Linked DNA regions of Homo sapiens. The protein of the gene in region 3 purifies or fractionates together with the protein of the main gene of each other region. This does not show direct contact. Each region holds a gene or a part of one and is shown on either strand. Other genes may lie near its edges. The genes, in order: ZBTB10, RTL6, BATF3 and ARK2N.

Evidence for each region.
Region 1: the proteins of BATF3 (region 3) and ZBTB10 purify together in Homo sapiens (affinity purification with mass spectrometry; 2 studies listed by BioGRID and IntAct, with this or other methods). This does not show direct contact.
Region 2: the proteins of BATF3 (region 3) and RTL6 purify together in Homo sapiens (affinity purification with mass spectrometry; 2 studies listed by BioGRID and IntAct, with this or other methods). This does not show direct contact.
Region 4: the proteins of BATF3 (region 3) and ARK2N purify together in Homo sapiens (affinity purification with mass spectrometry; 2 studies listed by BioGRID and IntAct, with this or other methods). This does not show direct contact.

The regions. Positions count from the first base shown.
Region 1 is NC_000008.11:80,517,202-80,524,228, reverse strand, and holds part of ZBTB10 (zinc finger and BTB domain-containing protein 10), read right to left. Parts: intron 5,827-7,027; coding exon 5,650-5,826; intron 5,448-5,649; coding exon 5,275-5,447; intron 5,007-5,274; coding exon 4,701-5,006; 3' UTR 1-4,700. UniProt on the Homo sapiens protein: May be involved in transcriptional regulation.
Region 2 is NC_000022.11:44,495,210-44,502,520, forward strand, and holds the start of RTL6 (retrotransposon Gag-like protein 6), read right to left. Parts: upstream 3,025-7,311; 5' UTR 2,835-3,024; intron 2,603-2,834; 5' UTR 2,348-2,602; coding exon 1,628-2,347; 3' UTR 1-1,627.
Region 3 is NC_000001.11:212,696,815-212,703,670, reverse strand, and holds the start of BATF3 (basic leucine zipper transcriptional factor ATF-like 3), read left to right. Parts: upstream 1-3,830; 5' UTR 3,831-3,908; coding exon 3,909-3,998; intron 3,999-6,605; coding exon 6,606-6,710; intron 6,711-6,856. UniProt on the Homo sapiens protein: AP-1 family transcription factor that controls the differentiation of CD8(+) thymic conventional dendritic cells in the immune system.
Region 4 is NC_000018.10:46,240,030-46,247,056, reverse strand, and holds part of ARK2N (protein ARK2N), read right to left. Parts: coding exon 6,870-7,027; intron 1-6,869. UniProt on the Homo sapiens protein: AMPK substrate important for exercise capacity and skeletal muscle function.

The DNA.
Region 1 (7,027 bases), on a different chromosome or scaffold from region 3:
CCTTATAGTATTCCATAATTCAAACTTGTAAGCCTTAAGTACAAAGATATCTGAATTATACATAAGTCAAAGTTCATTAAGGTGTTCCCCTTACCCCAATTAGTCTAAATTAGTACACTTGCAAAGAAATCTGAATTAAATGTCAGTCAATAAAATTCACAAAGCCAGAAGCAGTTTAGTGCTCACAAGTTTATATTTTTAGGTTTGAATAAAGATTCTTGTGTATTTTCTAAATACACAGACAAAACAGTTCCGGAAGTTTACATACATGTCTTAGGACACTTATATTAGGTAGGTAATTTACATTTTAAAAAGTTGGTCTTCGTAAAAGATCTTCCCAAAGAGCTTTTACAAACAGCAGGCGGAAGTGTTCTTTTGTTTACAGTGTTCAAAATGCCAATGCTCCCACTAAATAATGGCCTCAACCATCTCTCCTCAACCCAAAATATTGTTCTCAATAGCTAGTGTACTCCAAATTTAAGTACCCAATGTCATAAAATTTAGGGCTAGAAAACATCTTTTGAAGTGTGCTTATCCCTAACACATTTTAAACTATCTAGAATTCTTTAACTTCAGTTGAAAGCAGAGATACAGCAGGAAAAAAAAAAAAACTTTCCATTTTAAGTCCTAAAGTGACTAAACACCTGTTAGTTCTAAGTGTGGATATTATGTACCATAGTTAAGTTTAAGGATCTGGGTGACTGAACGGCACAAAAACTGGGGTTTCTATCTAGTTCTTCAGATAAAAACCATTCTTTTATAAAATTAAAATGCCACAGCCAGTTAAGAGCATGTGCTACACTGATGTGTCTTAATATAGTCAAAGTGACAAAACAACTGCTTTATGAAGAAAGAGTAGTAAGGAAATTTATTGGGGGGAGGAAAGACACTCAAAATTCTAAACACAGCTGTCTTATAGGAAAAATATAATCCATAGACTCCATTAAGAGCTGAAATTCTACAAGAGTTGTTTAATGAGGCAGCAATAGAGCCTCCCTGAAAGAGTATGGGCTTCAGAATCAGACGTGGTCAAATTCGAGCTCTGTCACAGCTGTGTTAAATTAGCCAAGTTTCTGAATTTCTCTGAGCCTTTCCTCATCTATAAAATGGAGACAATTAGCACCTACCTTATAGAGGATTAAGGTAAAATCATGTATACAGCACAACGGCAAGTGTGGGCACTCAAAAAAAAAATTGGTAGTTTTTTTAATCGTTTTTCAGAAAAATGAATCTAAACCCTTCATGCTATGTTCAGAAAATCCTAAAAAATATAAATAAAGCTTACTAAAGTTTTAAAAATTAAGATTTTTAAACCTATTTTCCATCACACTTTCCCCCGTATGATACTACTACAGTGATATTCAGGCCGTTTACACCATTTTGTATTAATATAAATGCCCAAGTCCTAATCCTTTCATTTCCTATTTTCTCCTTCCTTTCCCCCATCTTTTCTTATTTCTTTTTCCTCTTGGTTCTTATCTATTATTAAACAACTTTAAGATGTGTTATGCACCTATTATGTACCAGTGTTCTAAGCACTTTACATGAATTAACGCATTTAGCTCACTCTTCTCCATTAGGATAGCTGTACCTAACCCAGCTAGTGTGTTTTCCCCAATTTCAAAGCTACTCATTACTGTTCAGTTTCCCTTTCCTATAACGTTTCTTCTTTTTTAAACTCTTAATTGCTAGTGTGCTAAATTTAGCAAAATATCTAGTAAATAAGAAAAATGAACAGGGGTCCATATGGAAGTATCTGTCTCTGAGAACTCTAATAATGCACAATCTTGATTTATGAGACGGTCTGTAACTACAGAGTGAATATGAAAGAAAGTTTATACTCTTCCCCTTCATTAAAAGCTCTAAAATACTTTTTCATTTAAAATATAAATTACAAGAGACAACTTCGCCAAATGTGTAACATAATTCTGCCAGAGTTCCACAGACAAAATTATGAGTATTTCATTGTTACCTCTGAGACCAATCATAAGTTCTTAGTATCTATCAACTTCCTGAAATTTTACTGTAAGTCAGAAAAAGAATACACTTAAAAAAATAGAAATGTCCAGTAGTATACCTTAGTACTAAAACTATTTTTTTAAAAGATCTAGATGGGAAAAGGCAGTCCCTCGAGATCATGAAACAAAATAAGTTAGGCAGTCAGCAAGTAGAAAAATCTGTCAATTCTGTTTCCGGTAAAATGTTTACTTCAAAGAAATTTTTATATAGGCTGAGGCTAATATATTCAAGAGTATAAACACTTTTCCTTTGGATTACCTAAAAACAAACTTTTAAAGTATCATATTTCAATTGACTAAAAATATAGCCAAATCTGTCACAACACAACATAAAGTAATGGACAATTATAGAATATTTTAAATTAACAGTAACAAGCCATCTACATCAAACCTTATTTCCAACTAAAACCAAACAAAAGCACAACAATCCCGTAGTGTACCAAGTGTGTATTTCAATTTACTGTATGCAATCTAACAAAAATTTGGTCATAATTTACCAGATATACATAAATGATTTAAGTAGTAAAAGAAAATTCAGCTTCAAGAGAGTAAGTTCATATCTTGAGGAAAAGTAAAAGTACATTAAGAATGTAAAGCCAAGTCCAGTTTCTATGCAATAAGTGAACTGTAGTCTAATAAAGCAGATTTAGGTGATTTTTAGATATATATCTTTGTTCTTTAATATATATTTATATATAGACAGATCTACCAATTGTAAACTAGTTTATTTAAAGGAAGGGGATAAATGGGATGAAAGAAATCTTTATACTATACTTACATATTCACAAAGAACATTTTACGTTTAAAATACTTTTTCATTCATAGTATCTTTGCCCAACTAATTTCTACCAGAAATACATTTTACTCATTTGTCTAGAACATTAAGAAGTACTCATCTGTTTTAAACAAAAATCAAACCGAAACTATTCTTATCTGTCAGGTTTACAGTTATGTAGAAACTACAATATAGATGACAAAAGATGCATCTAACCATGTAACTGTAATTTATCTTTGATTTATCCAAGCAGAAACATCATTGTCTAACAATAAACCATTATTCTACTGAAATCAGAGACAATGATAAAGCTTGTCTCTTAAAAAACATCAACTTTTCAACTTTGATCAGATGGAGCACCAAAGGGATTATATCTGTCAAAGCATCTTTGCAATTTTTTCCACATAACTAGCATAATTTAGTTACCTGATATAAAATAGGAAAATATACTCAATTTTTATTTAAAAGAAAGCTGAAAATATGACATCCCTCAATCTTATATAATATACAATATGCTAATAAATGCCATACATGTTAACAATACGTGAAATGCTGCTGAGAGTTCCACAATCAGCTAATTCATGTCACCAGGCTAAGTAAATCTGACAATTTCACCTCAATATGTCACCCTTTGTACCCTGAAGAATTTATAGAATAATAAAGCTTCTCAGAATTTTATTTGTAAGATTTTTGAGACTGTTGAATCATGGTGACTACTAGAAAGACTGTATCAAGGTGTAGTGACTTCAAGGACAGAAAAAAATAAATTAAGTATTGATCATAATTTCAAAACAATCAATATCCCGCTAAGTATGAAACAAAAGAGAATGCACATTTTGTGTTAATTTTCATGATAAAAGGGACACGGGTAAAAACCTGATATTTCACTTATATTGCATAACAAGCTAACCAAACTGGACATGGTGGATAAATTATAAAACAAATCATTTTACTTATTTCTATGATTTTTCTTTCAATTAGGTCTTTCAAATAGGACTGAGGTATAGTACACTGGCAAAAATAAAGAGGCAAACAAGAATAGTGCCAAAGTAACAGATACCCAAAACCAAATACCATGTCAGAAAATATCATATAGTAACCATTTATCAGATTAGAGCAGCAGAAGAAAGTTACTTCTAAATCATAATCATTTTAGTGGTATTTGTCAACTTCGCCACGGTAACTTCATAACATCATTCTTCATTTGTGAAGTAGTAAAATTCATGTCAAAAAGGAAGAGGGGAATGGAGGAAGTCAGTTAGTTCATTCCAATAAATTACCTCTCCAGTTCTTATAAACATGCCCATCAGCACAAAATCGAGAAATAATACCTAAGACTAGAAGAGACTTGGTTTAAGTTATGAAGCAAATTAAATGGAAAAATACAAGAAAATAGAACCAATGGGGTTGAAAAAGCCCCTCACTGAAAATCTGTATTAAAAAAAATAAAATTAATAAAAATAAAAATAGAAACAAAACTCTACTAGTACAAACTAGCCTGAGTGGTTTGATGGACAGAGTGATTGGGTCAATTGTCACTGTACTTCCATAAACGGATTTTCTCCATTCATGTTAAAGTAGCACATGAATGTAAGCTCTTTAAGGACTATTTTCATAGGACCCAAATAGTTACTGTATATCCTATAAATAAAAAATATTTTACTTTGATAACTGACTGAGTATGTGGGGACTCCATGTAATCCAACCACATGGTTGTTTGCTGTATAGTCCTGTGCAAATATAAAAAAAAATTTTTTTTGCTATAAGGCTTTGACCCTACAGTTTTCACAGCAACATAACTACTATCCAGCATGTACCATATTTTGCAAGCCTTCAAGTTCAACAATCCAAATTGTCGATTCATATTAGGTCCAAATGCAGCATCCTTGAGGAGTATAGTAGGTCAGTTAATCATCTAGAGACATACAAACTTCTCCTGATTCATCCCATCGAGAGGGATCATTCTGATCTTCTCCATCATCAACTAGCTCTTCATCAGCTTCTCCTACTTCATTCTCCTCGTATTCTTCATCCCGAGGGAATTCTGTATCCTGTCCCTGATCTACACCTTCTTGCCCTCCTGGCTGTGATTTATCTGCACAGTCTACACAAACACCATAACGTCGAGATCCATGTCTTATTCCAACACTGGCTGCTAACATGAAGATCTTCTTACACACCATACATTTGTATTTTTTATCCTTTTTATGCACCTAATTGGAGGGGGAAAAAATCCAATATAAGGATATTATATATAATAGAATGCATTTGAACCACTCAAATTAAACCACACATTTAATAGTGAGTGAATACACCAGTTTCTCTGTAAAAAGCTCACTATCAGTTCATAAAGTCAAACTGTTTAAAGCAATTTAGGAGACAATCTTCCTTAAATTCACAATTAACTGTTTAAATCCCTTTAAACTTCACTGACATAAATATAGTTTATCTCAAAGATCAGCTGTATTTAAAGTTACTTACCAGGGAATGTCTTTTTACATGTTCTCTTCGAGTAAACAGTTTTCCACAAATATCACAGCTAAATGATCTCACTCCTGTGTGAATGAGCAAGTGCCTTTTTAGTGTTCGTCTGTATTTGGCTACATAGCTACAATGAGGGCATTTTAACTTGTTCATGATTAGAGATGATTCACCTATGAGAATTAAAAAAAGAGAAAGTGCTTATTACACATTAAACAGAAAACTTGCTATCAAAACTTCTTATCTCTATCTCTGAGAACAGCAATTATGTGGAGCTACTGCTACTTGGTTTTTAAAAAATGCAGAACATGAAAGCTTTTAATTGTTAACAATTATTTAATTAATTCTGTATTTGTTTAGTTGACTAATACTTGCCATTTTCCCAGGTTTCTTGTTTTGGCCAAGATTCTGGCAATAATCCATACTTGAAATCATTTGAAGCACCTGGTATCAATCCATACTTGAAATCATTTGAAGTACCTGGTATCAATCCATACTTGAAATCATTTGAAGGACCAGGCATCAAACCATACTTGAAATCATGTGAAGTACCTAGTACAAGTAAAAATTCTGAATTAATAATGGTAATAAAGATCTGTCTCTCATCAGAGTCAGAAAACAGAAATTATATTTATATCCTACAGGCATTATGATAGAATTTCATAGTATGAGTTAAATAAAACTGTATTTTAGTCTAAAATTGAGATGTCTTCCTACTTTATTATCACAATTAAACAAAATACCATTCAACTATAGTAGAAGAAATTCAGTTAAAAAAATTAATCATGGGCCAGGCACAGTGGCTCATGCATATAATCCCAGCACTTTGCGAGGCTGAGGCAGAAGGATCACTTGAGCCCAGGAGTTTGCAACCAGCCTGGGCAACATGGAGAAACTCCATCTCCATCTCTACAAAAAAATTTTAAAAATTAGCTGGGCATGGTGGTGTGTGCCTGCAGTCCCAGCTACTGGGGAAGATCATTTGAGCCCGGGAGTTGCAGTGATTCAAGATTGCGCCACTGCACTCCAGCCAGGGCGACACAGTGGGATCATGTCTCAAAAAAAAAAAAAAAAAAAAAAAAAGGTGGCGGGCGGGAGAAAAAAACATGAATATCATTTAATTGTGCAGACGCCACAAGAAATTACCCTTTTAAAGGATGGGTATATTCAAACCAGAACTCCTAATAGTTGCTTTTTCTAACTACTCTATCACTTAAGATTTTATCACCCTAAAGCCCAGCTATCAAATGGGATATTCTCCTTATTACGAATCCAGGACAGGCACATAATTTTAAGATTAATTGGTACAGAAAAATAGACTAAGAATAAAGAATATATATAGGATAATTAAAAATGTAAAGTTCTATTACTAGATCCTTGTTTCAGACATATTAGGGCAAGGTAACTGAATGCTCTCAGGGTTCCCTGAAATTTCTTTCTAACTCCATCCTTAAATAAAATAACGTGCAGAAGATAGAATCAAAATAGAATAATACATGTGCCTAAGGATCTTCAGATTAGCAAGGACAGGAATTATATCCACTGGATTTAATTCCATCTTTAATGTAATTCCTTGGACCAGGAACCTTTTGGCAATAGGAATATATATCCAGAATCTTCCACAACTATTGCCACCCTGATCCAATCAATCATGAGCTCTAGCCCCTGGACTGTCTTCAGTAGCCACCAAAAACTTGTCTCCCTACTTCCACTGTTGCCTTCCTAGAGTCTGTTCTCAGCAGAGAAATCACAG
Region 2 (7,311 bases), on a different chromosome or scaffold from region 3:
TGACCTTGCAAGGCAGCGGTTCTTCAGAATCGCAGTCACTTTTCCCAGCATCATCAAAACTCTTAAGAAGCCAGGCCCAAGGACCCAATCTCTGGGATCCCAAGACATATACATGTCTTTAGGTGGGTGCGGAGGTTGTCCTTCTGCAATCAAGCCAAGACCCTTCAGACAGGGGCAGCTGAGCCCAGGATAGGAAGCCCTATGGTCCAGGTCATGTCAATGTGGTTCATTTGGCATTGAAATATGGCGGAACAGCACAGTCCAAAGGGCGTGGCCAAACTCAGCCACAAAATGATTTCTTGGTCATCCCCCTGTGAGGAAGGATGAGGTCCTTCAGAAGGAGGACATGCATGCCAGTGCTGCATTGTCACCACACTAGGACCACGGCAGTCCACAGCTCTTTGCTTTTACAAATGCCACCAAGACCCTGGCTGGGTTGCCAGAGGCAGACACCCCCCCCGGCCTTAAGTGCTTAAGGATGTTTCCCGAAGGGAGTCTGTTTTCCCTTGGACAAAGGCAGCCCATCTGATTGCCCAGGCACGGGGAGTACATGCTACAAGGTGCCTTTGGAGACCCACAGATGGTGCGTGGGTGGCTGCAGGGCTGCAGTGAAGGCCACATGGCACCTGAATAGAGATGGGAACAGGTCTCAAGCTGGGCAAGGCTCGCCATCAGTGACAGGGGGTAGAAGCAGGAGTGACTGAGCATCAGCCGCTGTGGCACTGCCCATGGAGATCCTGGGCAGCAAAGGGAGTCGCTGGTATCCACCCTTAGCCTGCTATGACCCTCAGGCGTGGGTGTGTAGGAACCTGCAGCCTGATAGACCTGCCCAATGGCTGAGAGTCCACCACGACCTTATTTAGCAGGCAAGTTCCAGATTCCCCAAGCCTCTGGCTCCATCAGAACACCAGCAGCTGAAGTCAGGCATTAACAGAGGTGCAACATTGGTCCTTCCCAGTGAGAGCAGTGGGGCCTCCCAGACTGCATATTCATGTGCAGAGTGGAACCTGGCCCCCAGACATGGCAGAACTACGCTCCTTGCAGCAACCACTCGACCACTACAGCACAGATGAGGCCCTGCCCGCTGCACCGGGCCCTGGCAGGGCTGGGAGGCATCTTGGGCAGGAAGCCAGACCCCCTCTCCAGGTACACCCATCAAGCCACCAGCCTGGCCAAACGGGCATCTTTCTGTCCAGAGCTCATCAATAGGAACTGGGCAACCAGGTGGGGAGCCGCCAGGGGAGCTTGGAGAGGGCAGAGTAGGAGCCTCCATGAACCAAGTCAGGCTGGAAGGGGTCAGCCCTCGTGGTCCGTCAGCGTGCGGCGGAGTCCCTGTGCCTAAGTAGCAGAGCGGTAGTCATTGAAACAGGCCGGGATGCCAGCAAGAGGGAGGCGAGCATGCAGTGAGCGATAGGTACAAAGCTAGCACGTAAGAGGAAGCACGGCAAGGTGGGCAACCAGGGCGCCAGGAAGGACGGAAGGAAGATCTCCTCGGGGAACACGTCTGGAGAGGCAAGAAGGGAGGTCTTCAAACAGGGGCAAAGCTGTCGTATGGGCATTTCTTCTACACAGCAAAGAGCGTATGCTACCTGGGTGGCTGCAGACGCTACCAAGTGCTGGCGGATTCTTAAAGATTCCGTGCTCGGGCAGGCAGGGCTGGCGCTGGACTAGTCCCGTTGGAAGCTGGATGCACTGGGCAAGGCCCCGTGCCCGCAGAGGCCAGCTGGCGGCAGAGCATCTGCCTCTCTCGCACAGCCCTATTAGAGGCAGAAGTCTTCCTGATTTGGGCGCGCCGCGCATGCCGGAGCGGAGACTTGTAGGTTCTCCGCAACTCTGCCAGGAACCCCTGATAGTTGTTGCGCAAGGGGCTGTCAGGTTGCATGTGGGGGATAGCCCACTTCTCCGCCTCCCCAGTCAGTCGAGACACAAGGAAGGCCACACGCTCGGCCTCACCCGGGAAGCGGGAGGCCTGGAAGATCATGAATCTGTCCATCTGCATCAGGAACCCCGCCAACCGGCCTGGGTCCCCGGAAAAGGGCTCGGGCAGAGAGGTTGGAGGTGTGGTCATGGGTCGAGTCCCGTTTGAAGTAATTGAGGAGATGGGCGGGGTGATCTGCAGAGCCCCCGGGATCCGCGCCCTGGTGCGTAACAAGGTCAGCTCTGCCATCACGCTCTCCAGCATGTTGGTGAGATTGGCCTTCTCCGCCCGCAGGGTGGAAGCCTCCCGCCTCAGCGCCGAGTTGGTGAGGCGCAGGGAGGTCAGGGTGTCAATAACGTCATCCATCTGGGCATTCGGAGACGCTGCCAAGGCTGGGCTTTCAGCTTTGGACGTCTGCGGCTGCACCATGCTGGCCAGAGGTCAGCCACACGCTGAGATCCGCGGGTGGACCAAGAGGGTGTGGTGACCAGGTGGGCCCCTGTAGAAATGGGGGCAGTGTGGGGTGCACGACGGCAGGGCGCTGCGAGACCCCCAAGCCGAGGGCCCGAGAGAGGGGCACGCGGTGCCAGGCCCTAGGGACTTCGGCCCCGGTCCCACGCGGCTCCTTTACTGCAGACTTCGCGGACTACGGAGCCAGACGGGTGGCTGGACCTGCTCTGGGCCCTGGAGGATTAAGAAAAGATGTTTTCAAGGTTTCAGTTGCGACTAGCGGGCAGGAGGGTGAGGGGCGGCGTGGAGGGCCCGCGCGTGGGTGGCGAGGCTGCACAAAGCCCCGCGGCGCCCGCCCCGCGCCCGCCCGGGGGAGAACAAAGGGGGCTGCTCCTTGGCGGCCGCGGGCCTGGGGGCCACCACAGTGGCGGGGCCCGGCCGGGCAGGGGGCCGGGGGCACGCGTACCTGGGGTCTCGCGGTTCCTCCGCGGCTCTGTCCGCCGCCGGCCGTGACCAAGATGGCCCGCGCGGGGGACGCGGCCAGGCCGATGAATCACCGCGCGGACCGCCGAGAACTGCTTCCCGGTCAGCGCAGCCAAGCGACGGCGCTGGCGATGGCGGCGGGCGGCCTCCGGCAGGTGCAGGGACCGGGCCAGGCCGGGGCCGGGGCAGGGGCGGGGCCGGGGTCGCGGCAGAGGGCGGGTCACCGCGCGGCCTTTGTGCGGGCGGGGCCGGCGCGGTGGCGGTGGCGGGCGGGCCTTAGGCTGGCCCCGCTGGTTGCCATGGATACCGACCGCTCCCGCGCGTGCGGAGACGACCGCTGCCCCGCCCCCGGAAGTGATGCACAAAGTCCCACCCCCCCCCACCCCCCAACTCGGGCTGCTGCCAATCGGGGAAGACTGTAGTTGCTGCGGCGTCTTCATCAGGGCGGGTACCTGGTGTTCTCCCAGTCATTCCTCCCAAGAGGGCTTGCAAGGCTCTTTCTGTGGTTGTCATTGGGTTTATTTTTTTGATGATTTACTGTTCTTCTTATTTTTTTTTTTTTTTGAGACGGAGTCTCGCTCTGTCGCCTAGGCTGGAGTGCAGTGGCGCGATCCTGAGTCACTGCAACCTCCGCCTCCCGGGTTCAAGCGATTCTTCTGCCTCAGCCACCCAAGTAACTGGGATTACAGGCGCGTGCTACCATGCCCGGCTAATTTTTGTATTTTTAGTAGAGACGGGGTTTCACCTTGTTGGCCTGGCCAGTCTCCAACTCCTGACCTCAGGGCATCCGCCTGCCTTGGCCTCCCAAAGTTCTGGGATTACAGGCGTGAGCCACTGCATCAGGCCCTTATTGTGATTTGAATATAAATTTAATGTAACAAATCTTGATGTAAGAGAAGTAAAAAAAACTTTATACTACTCAGACTCCCTCCACCTAAAGATAGCAAATAGTAATACATATATATGTAACGTAGAGATAGTAATATTTCTGTACTTCCATCCAGTCATTTTTCTATGATATGTTCTACAAAATATTTTTTACCTTATGAATATTTTGTAACCATAACAGCACATTGAATTTTGAGCATTTTCCTATTAAAGATAGTTCAGAAGCATGATTTTCAGTTATTGCCTGTGGTCCATGGAACTCCTGTACCGCAAAGTATTTAGCCATGCCCTTTTTGATAGATCCTTATCTTGTTTACCATGCTAAAGTTTTATAAACTACACTTGTATATAAATCCCCACCCTTTTCTCTGCTGGGTTCCCCAGAGTAAATACCAAGGAGTGAAGATACCTGGCTGATATGGTTTGGCTGTGTCTCCACCCAAATCTCATCTTGAGTCGTAACTCCCACAATTCCCACATCGTGGGAGGAACCTGGTGGAAGGTGATCGAATTATGTGGGCAGGTCTTTTCTGCACTCTTCTTGTGATAGTGAGTGAGTCTCAAGAGATCTGATGGTTTTAAAAAGGGAAGTTTCCGGCCGGGCACAATGGCTCACGTCTGTACTCCCAGCACTTTGGGAGGCCAAGGCGGGTGGATCACGAGGTCAGGAGATCGAGACCATCCTGGCTAACATGGTGAAACCCCGTCTCTACTAAAAATACAAAAAATTAGCCAGGCGTGGTGGTGGGCGCCTGTAGTCCCAGCTACTTGGGAGGCTGAGCCAGGAGAATGGCGTGAACCCAGGAGGCGGAGCTTGCAGTGAGCAGACATTGCACCACTGTACTCCAGCCTGGGCAACAGAGCAAAAGTCCATCTCAAAAAAAAATTAAAAAAAAAAAAAAGGGAAGTTTCCCTGCACAAGTTCTCTCTTTGCCTGCCGCCATCCATGTAAGACCTGACTTGCTCCTCCGTGCCTTTCACCTTCTGCCGTCATTGTGAGCCTCCCCACCACACAGAACTGTAAGTCCAATAAACCTCTTTCTTTTGTAAATTGCCCAGTCTCAGGTATGTCTTTATCAGCAGCGTGAAAACAGACTAATACACTGGCCAAAGGGTAAGAACTGTTTGATTCCGGGTCTGGATTCCCAGCTTGACCTAGGTGATCCTTCTGCATGGTCAGTTTCAAGCTGGCATGGCTGGAGAGAAAAGATACTGAGAAATAAAAATAAAAATTTAAGCCCCCCCCCCCCAACCAACTGAACAGACCCCCTCTTGGCCAGGGGACCCCAGAGAAACCTGGGAAGCCGAGTTCCTGGCCATGATGGGATGGGAGGTTGGACACACTTCATTATCTGCCCCCGCTCCATAACCGATAACCACCATTAGGCTTTTTTCCTTAAGAGTTAAACAGAAACAAGCCTCTTTGAAAGACTTCAACATTGATACCAACCAACCATCTGACACTGCCCCTCCCTTTTTGTGGCACACAACAACTGACCAGCATTCTTTCCTAGTAAGAGACCACCAACCCTGGAGTGGTTCTGGCCAGCCTGTGGAGGATGTGCAGTGAAAGCTTTTGTGTCCTCTGATACACCTTTTGACATTAGAGGGCTGAAAACTCCACCTTCAGATCACGCTAACACTGCCATTTTTTGTAGGTGCTACCCATGAAGGGGGATGAAGCTCAGTTGCACATGTGCATATTTCTCTTCTCATAAATATTTATAACTCCTCCTGTAGCTTATTGAATATGTATATTTGGCCACCCTGATCAACATAAATTCCTGTCTTACTCTTCCAACCCTTGAAGTGCCTGTTTATGGCTTCTGGCCAGAGGCTACACTTCCCAGCCTATTCAAATGGCCACTCTGCAGGGTGCAACCTTTTATGATAAATAAAACTCTCCTTTCCAGGTTTATGAACCTCGTCATTCTTCAGTTAACAATACCCAGTATGCCAGTCTTTTGAGGACACAGTATTCAAGGAGGCTGAAGCTGGGAACCATCTGCACTCTTTAGGCAGGCCTGGGACAGAGCTGGATTCACTCAGACCTGCAGTTTTCACTCAAGGGAATTAGGGCATAAGGATGTTGTTACTGAGCAAGTGGTCTTGCTGCCTGATGCACACGGAAGCCGATACATATGGCACCAGCTTTTGAGAAAAGAAAAGCTTTATTGCAAAACTGACCAGCAAGGAGAGAGGAGGTGGGCTCAAATCCGTCTCCCTGATTTGAGGTATGGGGCAAGTTTTAAGGGATCAGGTGGCAAGAGAAAGTATTTATCAATGCTGGCTTGCCAGGGTCTGATTGGAGGGCTTCAAATTTGACCATATGTGGTAATGTATATTAAAGTAGATTTTAGCCCCAGACCTTCCAGGCTGATGGACCCCTTTGCTTGTGAATGAGTTCTGGTTTTCAACTTCTGGTCATGTCCCAGTCTTCTTGGTTCTAAGAGGACGAATCATTGGTTCTGGGTGTTGTTGGAGGTCAAAGTTTTTTCTACGGCACATGCCCAGGCTACATGACTTGCAGTTTTGGGCTCTGTTCTACCTAAAAGGCAGCTTGACATTTTGTTACCAACAGGGTAGGCCCAGTTTGGGCTGGTCCCACAACTACAGTGTCAGAACTTGGAAAGGATACTTGTACCCCAGTGTGCCAAAGTGTGCACCCTTTGTGACCAGGTGAAAACTTCTAGAGCATGAAGCAAGAGGGAAATAAAGAAGACTGTGTGTCCTTAAACTTCTTCCATGAGACCTTCTAAATCAGATGGGGGCAGGAGCTGTGTTAACCTTGACTGAGGTCAATGACTTCAAAAGCAGAAATGAGCCTGCAGCCTTCTACCCCTCCAGGTTCTTCTAAACACACAGAGGAATCCCATCCACTCGTGGGAGTCACTCCATCTGTCTCTCTGTCTCTCTGTCTGTCTAGGCCCCTGGATACTGGGCACATTAGTGAAGTGTCTGCTGCAATTCTAAGTGTGGTTGACACCATGAATCTTAAATTCCCAGGTGCATTGAATATAAGATGCACCCCAATTTCAGAAATGATAAAACATTTAAAGAAATAAATAATTTATCTGTATTTCACTTTACTTCCAAGGGGAAATTAGATGGCAGCCCATAAAATAGAGCAAAATAAAAATTAATGGACTTTTAAAAGTAAAAACAGGAGAAGAATATTTGGCTTCTCATCCAGATGAAGCTATGATTCATGCCCTGAGGTGCCTGTCTGGGCTGTGAACACAGAACAATAAAATATGCAAAGAAAATATTGAAAGGATATAAGTGGGCTCCAATCGATAAACAAGATAAACTTCACAATGGTCCAGAAACACAAACTTCTGAGTATTGACGTGGGCCTGCCGGGCTCTGGACCTGAGACATAATAGGGACCCAAGGCTGGGAACACAGCCAGGCTTCCTATTTGAATCCAGGGGATGGAGGAGAGAGGAGTCACCCCTGTGTCAGAAAAAAAGTCTGAAAAATTGGATTCAGTCATTTCATGGGGGTGGGGTGTGACAGTTTATGTGAAAGTGTGGCCCTGGGTCAAAGGAGAACACAGATATAGTCATCTT
Region 3 (6,856 bases):
TGCGTTTTTATAAAGGGTTGTCTTTTGTGAAGTGAATCACCAGAGGATTTGGTCACTGAGCTATAAACCTCTTGCACCTCCTACCCCCTCCCCAAAGATGTAATCCAGGGTAATTGTGGTATTAATCGGAAATTGCCAAATCATATAATTTCTCTTCCCAGTTCAAGGAAAATAATACAAATAAAAAGAAAATAAAAGGCTGAAGAAAAGGAGACATTTGAAATGCTTCTTCTTGTTTATCTTTTCTTTACTTTCATTTTTCTTTCTCCTTCTGACTAAAGAGAATAAAACAAACGAGAAGATATTACAGAAAAGCAAGGAAAAGTCTGTTATTAGAGCAAACCACTTGATCAGAGAAGTGCTGGCATTCTGGTGAGGCCAGTGAGCTTAGTGCCATACAAATATATTTATATCACTTATACATATGAAATGTTTTAAGATGCTAACATAATAAAAACCATTTTTCAACAAGTACAGGTAAAAGAAATTATAATGCCACCATTATAAGAGAAAGGCTACCATCAGGGTACGTTTTCTTCCAATCTTTTCTCATATGCATACATTCGTACATACTGTTCATGTCATATATGTACTTTTTGTATCCTGATTTTTCTCACTCTACTTCAGATCAAATAAACATTCCAAGTGGCAAATTTGTCTGCATGTTTGTAATTTTTTTTTTAAGAGACAGGGTATCACTCTGTTGCTCAGACTGGAACTCAGTGGTGCAATCATGGCTCACTGCAGCCTTGCACTCCTAGGCTCAAATGATCCTCCCACTTCAGCCTCTAGAGTAGCTGGGACTACAGGTGAGAGCCACTGCATCCAGCCTGCATGCTTGTAATTTTAAAGATGCATAACATTCTATCCTGTGGCAATAACATATTCTGTTTAGCCATTCAACTATAATCGGACATTTATGTTGCTTACATTTTTCACTCTTAAAATGTTATTATGAACTTCTAGTGCATATAGTATTTTTCTCCCTAGTATTTTCAATGATGTTTCTAGGATGATTTTCTAGCAGTAGGAAAATTGAGTCAAAAGTGATGACTCTTTTATGGTTCTTGAAAGTGACAGTAAAACTGCTTTCCAGCAGGTTTGTGCCAATTTACAATGAAGCCAGTGAAACATGTGAGTACCAATTTCACCATACTCTCCCCAGCATTTGATATTACTTTTTATTTTGCTAACTTAAAAAGGGTTCTTATTTTAATATATATTTTCCTATACCTATTTTCCTTGATTATTTCTTCTGCTGGGAAATGCCATTTCATATCCCTTCTGCAATTTACCTTTGCGGGTTGTCTCAATATTCTTCTTCTTCTTTTTCGTGGGCTGTATATTAACCCTTTCTCATATGCACTGTATTTATCCAATCTGTTTGTTTTACATTCCTGGTTATACTGTCATCTAAAACAATTTAGCCCTTTTATATAGTTCAGATCTTATCAAGTCAATTTCTCCTATTACATGTATTCTTATAAGATCCTTTCCTTATCTTATCTCCACAACTTTATTTTATTTATTTGAGATAAGGTCTTGCTCTGTTGCCCTGGAGGCTGGAGTGCAGTGGTGCAATCATAGCTCATTGCAGCCTCAAACTCCTGAGCTTAAGTGATCCTCCTGCCTCAGCGTCCTGAGTAGCTGGGACTACAGGTGTGCACCACCACACTCAGCTAGTTGATTTCTTTTAATTTTTGGTAGAGTTGGGGGTCTCACTATGTTGCCTATGCTTCCATGACTTAAATAAGAATTTAATTCTGCTTTAGCTCTCTGATTTTCATTTCTGTATCTAGCTATTTAATCCATTCATTTTGATGTATGATCTTTACATCAAATTGATCTCTGCCCTAAATGCTACCTAGTTAACCAAGACTAAATGTATTTGAAGAAACCCTTGCGTAACACAAGACAGTAGACTATGCCTATATAAAGAGTTCGTGTGTGCTGGGACATGGTTTCAGGCTCCCTGGGGAGAGACAGGGAAGCAGCAGCCCCAAAGGACTTAAAATGTGATGTGGTTCAGTGAGAAAAGTGGGCATGACCAGAATAAAGTGTAGGAGTGCACGGGAATGTTCCCGAGGTGTTTCTACCTTGCCTTTTCTGTGCATAAAAAACACTGGGGAATGAAATCACTTCTGAAAATGATAACCCCTTGACCCAGATGTTTTCCTAGCTCGTTAGAGCCCTTTTAGTGCTTCAGGAATGAGAGCTTTCAGCTGACCTAGTGCAATACATATACTGAGCACCTGTTGAGTGTATGTAGCGTGCTATGCTAGGCACCTTGTGTGGGTACCTTGTGGGATGCAAAATAGTCCTGGGGCAACCACCAGTTAAGCTGAGTGATGAAATAACGGAGAGGAAAAGATTAATCCGGGCAGATAACCCAGCGTAGCGCTGGCTCTGCTGCGCAGCCTTGCTGCTGTGGAGTGTGGCGCTGCAACTCTAAAGGGCTGCGTCCACCCTCCGTCTTCCTCCCCGCCTCTCAGTTGGCCGAAGCTTCTGATCACACAGACAAGAATCTCCGCTCGCTTTCCCGCTGGCCTCCAGGCAGCCAAGTTCACTCAAGCTCTCTCAAAGCTTTTGCAAGAGTGGGTCTTAAATCCTGGCGGGGGGCACGTGCACTCATTTAAGACTTAAAAAGGAATCGGAAATGACTGTCCCCATGCCCACTGCTGCCCACAAACCTGAAGACCCAAGCGACCACACTTGGTAGGCACTTCTGCCCTTCTGGTCTGGTTCCCACCCGCCCATCCCGAATCGCGGTTATCTTTCCCGGTGCTCACAGCATGCAGACCACAGCCTGTGGCCGCTAGTGTTTCCTTCGCTAGGACCACGGGTAATTGTCTTGGCTTCGCATCTTTTGACTGGCAGGCAGGTGGACAGGGACTTGCCCTACCTCAACCCGGTCCCCAGCTTGGCACGAGCAGATAAATCTTGAAAAAGAAAAATGATCTGGGCCGTTTAACCGTGGCATGGCGGGTCCAGATCCCCAAACCTGTCACTAGTGACGTCCCACGTGGCAGATTCGCTCTCAGGGAAGCCCGTCACCGTTTTTGTCCGGGACATCCTCCCCATGCCCACCCTCCGCTCCGGGAATTCACCCTCGGGGCCGCCCCGCCTCGTTCCCTCCCACAGCCCGGCGGACCCGAGACGGGAAGGGCAGGCACTCCCTGCAGAGTCCCTGGGGCGCCCGTGGCTCGGGGTGCGCGGTGGGACTCGGTGAAGCCGGCGTCTTCACCCCAGAGCCGCGGCTTCGGGGCCGCTGGAGGAGCGAGAGTGGCGCCCGGATGACTGATCGCCGCGGAGAAAGTCCCCCGGGACTGTGACCCCCGCGCCGGGGGGCGGACGCAGGGCGTGGCTGAGGCGCAGGAAGATGCCGCGATGGGACCGGGAAAAAACACCGACCCCAAAACACCCACTGTGTTTCTCAACCTGAGTTCCCCGGCAGCCGCCGAAGGACCCCAAAGGCTGCATGGCGCCCCCCTGGTCCCCACCCCCCCGGGCGTCGCCTCGCGTGGGTGGGCTTCGCGTTCCCTCCGGGGTTTCAGAGCCACCACGTGACTTCCACGAAGCGCGGGGCGCCGGCGGAAAGCCGCGGCAGGGGTGGGATTTGGGACCCCGAGGTGCGGAGAGAGGGCGGGCAGAGGAGGAAACGAGGCGGGGGTGGGAGAAGGAGGGCGGGGCAGACGTGGGACGGGAAGGACGGCTGCCGGGACTGGCGCGCGGGGACACTGGGCCGACGCGTGGAGTAGCGGGGAGAGCGGGAAGCCTGAGGGGGCGGGGCCGGCGCGAGGCCGTGGGTGCGGCACGAGGATGCCGGCGGCGGGACAGCGCCCGTAGGCAGCCCCACGGGCAGGGCGCGCGGGCGGGGCGGGGCGGGCCGGGCCAGAGGAGCGCCCGGCATGTCGCAAGGGCTCCCGGCCGCCGGCAGCGTCCTGCAGAGGAGCGTCGCGGCGCCCGGGAACCAGCCGCAGCCGCAGCCGCAGCAGCAGGTAGAGGGCGAGAGGCTCAGGGAGGGCCGTGGGGTGCGGGGACCGGCGCGCCGCGGGGGGCGAGGAGGTGGGTGCTGGAGTTCCGTGGTGGTGACTGCGGAGGTGCAGAGGTGGCGGGTGCGGCCGGAGACAAGCAGAGGTAGGGGCGTAGGGATGTTGGGGAATGGGGGCGATCCAGGGACCCTGTCGTGCGCACAGTGTCCGCGGCTCCTGGAATGGCTCCTGAGCCAGCTCCTGCGCCCTCTGGGGGAAGAAGCCCGAGGGCGCCGACGCCTGGCTGGGCCGGGCATGGCCGGTGCTCCCCGGCACGTGGGCTCCGCACTGCCCTGAGGGCCGCCCCATCCTGGCGCAGCCAGCGACTGCCACCCCACCACCCGCGCCTGTAGCCCCTCCAGGATTCCCCCGGGTGGGGGGGGTGCTGCCGCGGGAATGGAGAACGCCGGACTAGTCAGCCTGGGCGGAGGGAACCCACAAAGGGCCGACTCCGCCCCCAGCTGGTGGAAACCCTTTGCCCCTTCCCAGTTCGCTGTCCCCTAGCAACGTTTACAGCGGCGCAGTCAGGAAGGAGACCAGGTTGGCCACAGGGACGGCCGTCTGGAAACTTTGCCTGGGTCTTGGCCACCTGCCTTACGACGAAGACTGGGTCTTTTCATCCTTACTCCCCACCTTCCCAATTCAGCGCCCGGCCCATGTCATCAGGTGTCGCTGGAGTGTCACAGAGATCTGAGTTTGGGCCTGGGCTTTGCCACACACAGGCTGAGCAGCCTTGAGCAATTTGTTTAACCTCTCGGACCGTCCATTTCCCCATCTGTAAAATGAATATAGTAACATCAACCTCTCAGGATTTTTGAGACTGAATCAGATATGGTTAATAACATAATACTATCTCTAACTTTCGCTCACCTCTTTCTGTCTTGATTAAATGTTTCTGCTGGGTTGGCAGGTGTGATCATGGTGATGAGTCCAGTTTAGAGTCAGCTCCCCGAGGGCAGTATGCAGGCTGCTTTCTTGTGCTAGTGACTTTTTGATTACAGAGAGCAAAGAGGCATGAGAAGCACTATGCAGAATACATTTTTTTTTAAAGTAGCAACTTCAACAAAGGCAGGTAACTTCTTGAGGGCATACTGTATGCTGGGAGCTTTAGGACAAAATCTCATTTCATCGCATCCCAATCCTAAGCATTAGGCTGTTAGCACCAAGTCTGCAGAGTTCACTGACCCTTTGTTTAGGGCTTGTATCCCCAGTGTCTAGAACAGTGTCTGGCACATGGTAGGTGCTCAGTTAATACATATTGAAAGAATGAATGAATTATGCTTACAATAAATGAGAAAACTGAAAATTTAGAGAATTTAAACCATTTACACAAGACCATGTTGACACTAAGAGACAAAACTAGGATCTGTGTGATTCTAAAGCTAAAGAGCTGTCTTCTAACCACATGTTCCCCTGTAATGTTCTGGTTTTGTTTATCAAGACTTCTTTGCCTCTCTAGAAGACTGTATTATCATACTTTGTTCCCTTAAGCTTCTATTTGCTATGTATGTTATTTATTCCTCTCCTTTTTATGCCTTTATATTCTTGCATATCTGAAACTTCTTACCTGCAGTAACTTGGGAAGATGTGTGTCTTATGTGGAATACAAGATGAGATCAAATGATAACTGAAAATATCCTTTTTTGTGTTATTAATATTTGCATTCCGTGAATATTAATAACTGAGTAGTTTTCCTTGTTTGTACCTCTTGGCTCTTAAACTCTGTAAGTGTGGTATTTTTCCCGCTTGGTGGTGTCTTCTCATGGGGTTCTAGAAAGCAAATACTGCTCTCCTTTTTCATGTTTTCTATAGCTGATTGAAGTGTTTTTACCATGGTCAGTGCATTTTTCCGCCTGCCTGTTTCATGATCACTATTGAGGGATTTGACTGAATTTGGTTAAATCTTACATATAGCTAACAGCTTTCAAGACACATAAAAAATTTGCTGACTTCTGAAACAAAATGTCAGCCAAGCATTGTTCAAATGAGTACACTGTCAGTGGGGTTTAAGATCATTTGGTGTGTTGGTAGAGTTATGTGGCTGCAATTAGTTGTAAGTGTAATCATGATTTGCATGCAGTATCAAAAGTACCTTTCATGTGTGGTGGTATAAGGACTGGCAAACAGCAAGTTCCAGATAGCAGATCTCTCCACCGCCCCCCACCCCCACCCAGCTTTCCAGTCTCAGATGGACGACATTGACACCACAGCTCTTCCAGGCACACGCCCTGTGGGCTAGAGGTTTATGAACGTTGATTTGGAGACCAACAGACCTGAGTTCCACTTCCCACTCACCCACTTAGTGGCTGTAATACCTGGAGCAAGGTCCTTAACCTCTCTGAGTTTCTTATTCCTCATCTTTTAAACGGCGGTCACACCACACACTTCACACACTCACATGGTGAGTGCTCCTGGGCAAGGGGCTGTTGTGAGCCCATTGGTATAGCAACTAGTGGTGCTGTCTACTGCAAAGCAAATGATGAAGCTCAGTGAACAACGCTGAGTGATGAGACAGGGCAGAAAAGGGTAAGGCGAGGGGCCACGACATCACACCCACCCAGTGTTTTTCCCCAGAGCCCTGAGGATGATGACAGGAAGGTCCGAAGGAGAGAAAAAAACCGAGTTGCTGCTCAGAGAAGTCGGAAGAAGCAGACCCAGAAGGCTGACAAGCTCCATGAGGTGAGACCGTGGTAGGGGCAAGCCACCTTAGAGCCACACAGCCTCTGCCTTGCACGGGAGTGGGGGTGATGACTGTTCTCTTTATCACGATTTCAGCAACACTCATATCTAATTTCTGCCAGGTCCTTCCAGCCCAGTGTTCTCAC
Region 4 (7,027 bases), on a different chromosome or scaffold from region 3:
TTGCCATAAAAATTGCAATCCAAACCTGCTGGTATTTAACATGGTTACAAAACCCAGATGATATGCTAAAACTGGTCACTTTAAATTGGGGTCTGCTATTTTTTTTTTTTTTTTTGAAATGGAGTTTTGCTCTTGTTGCTCAGGCTGGAGTGCAAAGATGTGATCTCAGCTCACTGCAACCTCCACCTCCCGGGTTCAAGCGATTCTCCCACCTCAGCCTCCTGAGTAGGTGGGATTACAGGCATGCACCACCACGCCAGGCTAATTTTGTATTTTAGTAGAGACGGGGTTTGGCCATGTTGGTAAGGCTGGTCTCGAACTCCTGACCTCAGGTAATCTACCCGCCTCGGCCTCCCAAAGTGCTGGGATTACAGGTGTGAGCCTCCGCGCCTAGCCTAGGGTCTGCTCTTATCTGTAATGCTTGGTCAATATACTAGTGCAAGATAAGAGGCATGAGAAAGTGATGGGGGTGCTAAATACAGACTGCCTCGTGAATGTTAACAACTCCTAGACTAATAGTGTGAGACATTTGCCAAATTTCCTGTCAGAGCCTTAGATAAATTGTGCCACACAGAAAACAAATCAGCTAGGACCCACACCAAGGCAATGAGATGCCGTGCTCTACAAGAGACACCAAAGGCATTCTGGGATGCCTCTGCCTCTTCCTTCTTCTATTTCAGAGCCAGGACCATTAGTCCTTTTCTGTCACTGTAACCCTCTTCAGCATCCCACACATTCCTTTGGGAGCTCCAGTATAGAACCTGACATTCTCTGGCCTTTGGGCCTTTTCTGCTCTGCCCCTCCCCACCCCGCCTCACCCCCCATGGAGGACTTCACAGGATTCCAATGGCAGAACAGTGCCTAAAGCATACAGAAAAGTGAGCCAAAGATGCTATGAGGTTCTTCAAATACTGTCAGTGGTAGTAATCTTTTCCAGTTCTAAGACAAGAACAAGCCCTGTAGAGAAAAATGTAAATACCGCAATTACCATATATTAAACTGAAAATAAAGCAGAGCACTTATATTTAGCTATTGTGACAGCTGGCTGTCTCTGTGTAGGTCTCTGCCTGTGTAGGTCTTTGGAAAGATAACTTCTTTCACTATATGAGAAAATTCTAAATTTTGTCCTCCCACTACAGACCTTTTCAACAAGAAAGGGTAAGAAAAAGTTACCAAGAAAAGGTAGTTATCAAAATAGGGTAAGAAAAAGAAGCACAGAAAAAGTAGTAACTAAATTATCATGGAAAACAGTTTCTTTCTGTCTTTAAAGGAAATAATCCAGCTACTTTTTAAACTGTAAATCCACTGGGTAAGAACTAGGCCTGAGCTTTGCAACACACTGAAGAGAAAGTAATACTACATACTGTATGACAGTCGCATGCTAGGCATAAAAAAAATAAAAAAATAAGTCACTACTCATTTAGCTTTAAAAACAGCAAATTACTACTTTTAGTTCTTTTTTTCTTTCTTTTTTTTTTTTTTTATTGAGACAGAGTCTCACTCTGTCACCCAGGCTGGAGAGAGGTGGTGCAATCTCGGCTCACTGCAACCTCCACCTGCCGGGATCAAGCAATTCTCCTGCCTCAGCCTCCCAAGTAGCTGCGACTACAGGAGCCCACGCCACCGTGCCCAGCTAATTTTTGTATTTTTTTTAGTATAGATGGGGTTTCACCATATTGGACAGGCTGGTCTCGAACTCCTGACCTCGTGATCTGCCCACCTCGGACTCCCAAAATGCCAGGATTATAGGCGTGAGCCACAGCACCCAGCCTACTTTTAGTTCCTTAAACAGCACGTTAAACAACCTTAAAAAGTGAAGGAAGAGGGCTGGACATGGTAGCTCACGCCTGAAATTCCAGCACTTTGAGATGCAGAAGTGGGCAGATTACTTGAGATCAGGAGGGCAAGACCAGCCTGGCCATCATGGTGAAACCCCATCTCTACTAAAAATATAAAAAAATTAACGGGGCGTGGTGACGGGTACCTGTAATCCCAGCTACTGGATAGGCTGAGGCAGGAGAATCACTTGAACGAGGAGGCAGATGCTGCAATGAGCGGAGACTGCCACCGCATCCAGCCTGAGCGACAGAGCTGGAATCCATCTCCAACAACAACAACAAAAAAGAGTGAAGGAAGAGCTCAAAAATCTAAAATCTGGCTGGGTGTGGTGGCTCATGCCTGTAATCTTAGCACTTCGGGAGGCCAAGACAGGCGGATCACTGGAGGTCAGGAATTCGAGACCAGTCTGGCCAACATGGTAAACCCTGTCTCTACTAAAAATACAAAAATTAGCCAGGCGCAGTGGCACACACCTGTAATCCCAGCTACTTGTGAGGCTGAGGCACGAAAATTACTTGAACCCGGGAGGCAGAGGTTGCAGTGAGCCCAGAATGTGCCATTGTACTCCAGCCTGGGTGACTGGAGACTCCCTCTTAAAAAAAAAAAAAAAAAAAAATCTAAACTCTTACCATCAATTTGATGCAGATAAACATGAAGAACATGACCATACTTCATCTCCTTCACTATACTGATTCTGAAACATGGCCATTCTGGTCTAATTATTAAAAACCCTACACTAGGAACAGGAAACCCAGGATTCATTTCTCTGTACTGCCACCATGTTAGGGACAAATCAAGATTACCATCCCTATTGTAAGGATGGGGAAAATGCTCAGAACCTACCTTCTTGACAAGAAGGCTGATGGAAAAGATAAGGTATTTAAAGTTTTAACTTCCCAGGGAAAAAAATCCTAAATAAGTTCAGTTTACCACAGCTATAAGCCTTCCTCACCAAGACTTCTGCTTCTTCTTGCCCCAACTACATTTGTTTGCAGTGAGCCCTTACTAGCAACAAAAATGAAGCCATTTTCAGATATATTAATACAGTTTCCTAAACATGCTGGATACAAGAGTTACCTGAGGCTATTATTAAAAAGAGATTCCCAGAAACCATTTCAGATTTATTGACAGAATCATCAGGAGAAACCTAGGAGTGTGAATATTTATAAACACACTGGGTAATTTCTACGCTCTGGCAAAATTTAAGAAGTACTTGTAGCAAGAGCAACTCGTTGCAGTGCAAGAGAGTAATTAGAAATCCAGTGACTGAGCCACTAATCACTTCCTTACTCAGTCTACTTCAGCATATTAACATAATGCTGGTTAGCATTTCTGAGGGCCTACTATGTGCTGTCCTCCGTAGTAAACACACTGTATTTCACTTAGTGGTAACAATAACCTTTTGGAGTAGATACTATAAAGGTTGTGCCCCAGTTTTGTAGATAGGGAAAACTGAGGCTTTATATAATTTACCTGAGGACATGCAGTTTCTAAGTGGCCACTGGTTCAAAATCACCCACTACAGTGTTCAATTCCAGCATCAACTTAAAAAAAGCAAACACATGGCAAGAATTGAAATGGAAAATTCAGGTCTTTTGTTGATCAGTAGCTTCTCTAATTTCGACTTACTTTTTAATCCCTGCATGTGGTTCAAGTCTTTTGCCTAGGTTAAAACTAAAACTAAATATATATTTTGGATGCAAGATAATCATCTAATTGCTTGGAAAAAGGCAACCTACTCTATCTTTAGTGCGTACCTATGTGATCCTAAATGGGATGGGGCTGTGGACCTGGGTTGAGATGCTGCTGTTGATTAAAGTGAACCCCTGAATAGTCTGCTCAATAACTAGGCTTGCTATTTTGTTGTGAAAGGGAAAGACAGGACCCAGATTAACCATTAAAATTTTAACTTACACTCACACCATAAGAATGACCATCTGACTAATAGTCCAAGCCTCAAAACTATTAACTGGCTCCTAAGCATAAATTCTATTAATATTTTATTGAGACACTGTAAGCACATTCAGATATCTTCACAAGATGAGTTCCACTATGATAATCACATCAAGACTACAGTATTATTTTTATTTATTACCCACATACCAGTATTGTCAGATTTAAGAAAAAAAAATGCCTTTGAAAGAGCCAATAAGCTTCATAACAAAATGTCATGGGGATCTGCTGAGCAGTGGTGACTGCATCCTATGATATACAGAAACCTACACAAAATTTATAGTCCAATATGCACAAATGCTCTCTCTATATATTAATTATATCCTAGAGAAATTATCATATACATATACCAAAAAACACATAAAGAAATGTTAAGAGCAGTATCACTTAAAATAGCACCCTAAATGTCCAACAAGAGAATGGGTAAATTGTGATATATTCATATAGTGGAATACTAAATAGCAGTGGAAAATGAATGAACTAGAGCCACACATAACAACAACAAAACTCATAAAATGTTTAACTAAAAAAGCACATTTCAAATGATTACCTTCAATGTGATACCAATTAGTTTTAAAAACATGCTTATTTAGATATATAACAAATGTAGTACAAATATATAAAGAAATACACAGGAATACCACACATTAAATATCCAATTTAGGATAGCTTTGGCATGGGAAGGGCAAAGGGAAGGAAAACATCTGAAGCCACAGTTGTTTTCCTCCTCACATACTTTTACCACGTTTTATTTCTTAAAAAGAATGGTTGTAGTTTCTTAAGAGTGATTTTTAAATAGGCTAACAATTACTTGAATCTGAAAATGTGAATGCCATCCCAAAAGCTAAACTTTAATGATATTTTAAAACCGCAAACTTTGCATTATTCGGTCAAGTCATAAGAAATGGCTGATTTTTTGTAGGTCAAAAAGTCAAATATTAACAATTCCATACGGTTCAATCTAATATTAAGAATTCTGCATATGAAGAGCAAAACGTTGGTAATCATTCATTTTTTACCCCAAAACTTTACCATAAAATGGTCTATATTTAACGGCAAGACTCAGAAAACAGAGAAATAAAACTGAAGTGGAATGGATGACTTAATTGCCAAAGGATGAAAAACAAAGATAAACCATCTAATATACAAATTACAAGGCTGGGTGCAGTGGTTCACGCCTGTAATCCCAGCACTTTGGGAGGCCAAGGCAGGCGGATCATCTGAGGTCAGGAGTTCCAGAGCAGCCTGGCTAACATGGTAAAACCCCATTTCTACAAAAAATTAGCCAGGCGTGGTGGTGCGCGCCTGTAATCCCAGCTACTCAGGAGCCTGAGGCAGGAGAATCGCTTGAACCCAGGAGGCGGAGGTTGCAGTGAGCTGAGATCGCGCCATTGCACTCTGGCTTGGGCAACAAGAGCGAAACTCCATCTCAAATAAATAAATAAATAAATAAATAACTTAGAAACACATATTGTACAAAATGTGGCCAAACTACTTTCCACTGATATAAAGCATTATTACTTCTTTTTTCTTTTTTGGGGGGATACAGTCTAGTTTTGTCACCCAGGCTGGAGTGCAGTGGCACAATCTTAGCTCACTGCAACCTCTGCCTCCCAGGTTCAAGCAATTCCACAGCTGAGATTACAGGCGCCCACCACCACGCCCACCACCACACCCATCACGCCCAGCTAATTTTTGTATTGTTAATAGAGACGGGGTTTCACCATGCTGATCAGGCTGGTCTTGAACTCCTGACCTCAAGTGATCCTCCCACGTCGGCCTCCCAAAGTGCTGGGCTTACAGACGTGAGCCACTGTGCCCAGAAGCATTATTACTTCTTTTCAAAGTATTTGTATTAATACATATTAATAAATCCTTAAAAGACACTTGTTGGGCAAAACAAGGATTTATACATATAAAAACTGAAGTCCAGAGGAGAAACAACTGGTCCAAGGACAAACAGGCAGCAGTTACCAGTCAAAAAAAATCAAAACTAAATTCAGGTTCAGTTCCAAAATTAGCTACAGTAAATCAATCAGGTCAACAAACAAGTGATTTTTCTGTAATTCCAATCAAAGATTATGAAAGGAATAATTTAAGACAACAACAATCAATGGAGTTCTGTCTCAATATAAAAAGTTCTAAACTATAACTCATTTTTTTGTAAAACTCATTTTTCATAAAAATAACTTTAGGTAGTGATTAAACTATTAGATTAACTCATAAAACCAATGCATTTATAAATTAACTAGAAAACTATAATCTTTCAGCAACACTGAAGAAATTATACACTGCATAAGCAGTCTCTCAATCCCCTTCTCTTCTTAAATGTTCAGTGCTAGTATTTTCACAACAACAACAAAACAAGGTTTAAATTAGAATGCTGAAAGAAACTTTTGAAGAAAATATTGAAGAAGACTTGGAGGTATTGTGAAAGTTTTTCAAAGGTAACAGCAGTGGATTTTTTAGTGAATAAATACCACCTTAAAGAATAATCACAAAACTAAAAAAATGTAAGACAGGGACAGAGATTTTTTTTCCTGAGCTAACAGAGACAGAAACTAAAAGAAAGGAGTTAGAAAAGACAAATGAGAACTTACTGACGAGGAATTAACAGGGTCACTCCACAGCAAGAAGCACAAGAAACAGCGGCAGCGCTGTGTATGAACAGCCAGCCCCACAGGGAGAGATTCAACGATTCCCTATCCAAGCTGCAAGGTCACTACCCAGAATTAAAGTGAGAGAAAGAACTGGCCAAAGAATATGAGCATATCTGGGTCATTTTTGCAAATATTGGGCATTTTTAATCCAAGAAATATGCCTACTGAAACCTACCAATACCTACAATTAATGTCTTAAATGCTCTTATTTCTACTTCCTTCTGAGTAGGAAAGATGAATGACAAGCTATCCAAATTGTTTCAGGTATAAATGGCAGCCTGGATAGTCACAACCAATCATTCAATGCCAGATGTCTCTGGTATGACCTGTTCTCCTCATCAGGGTCCACTACAAGGAAAACAGCTCCAGGACACATGCATATTACACCGTTAGAGAAGGGGGATGGGGAAGACCAACCTGCCTCTGCATTCAGCTCCTCTAGAAGCCCGCTGGTCCTCCAGGTAGCTCCTGTGTCCTGGCCGCCTACAGAATTACTGTGCTCTTGAACTACTGCAGCCGCCAATAAATTGTCCACATTTACCACTTCTGGGTCAGAGTTGGTGTCAGACATATCA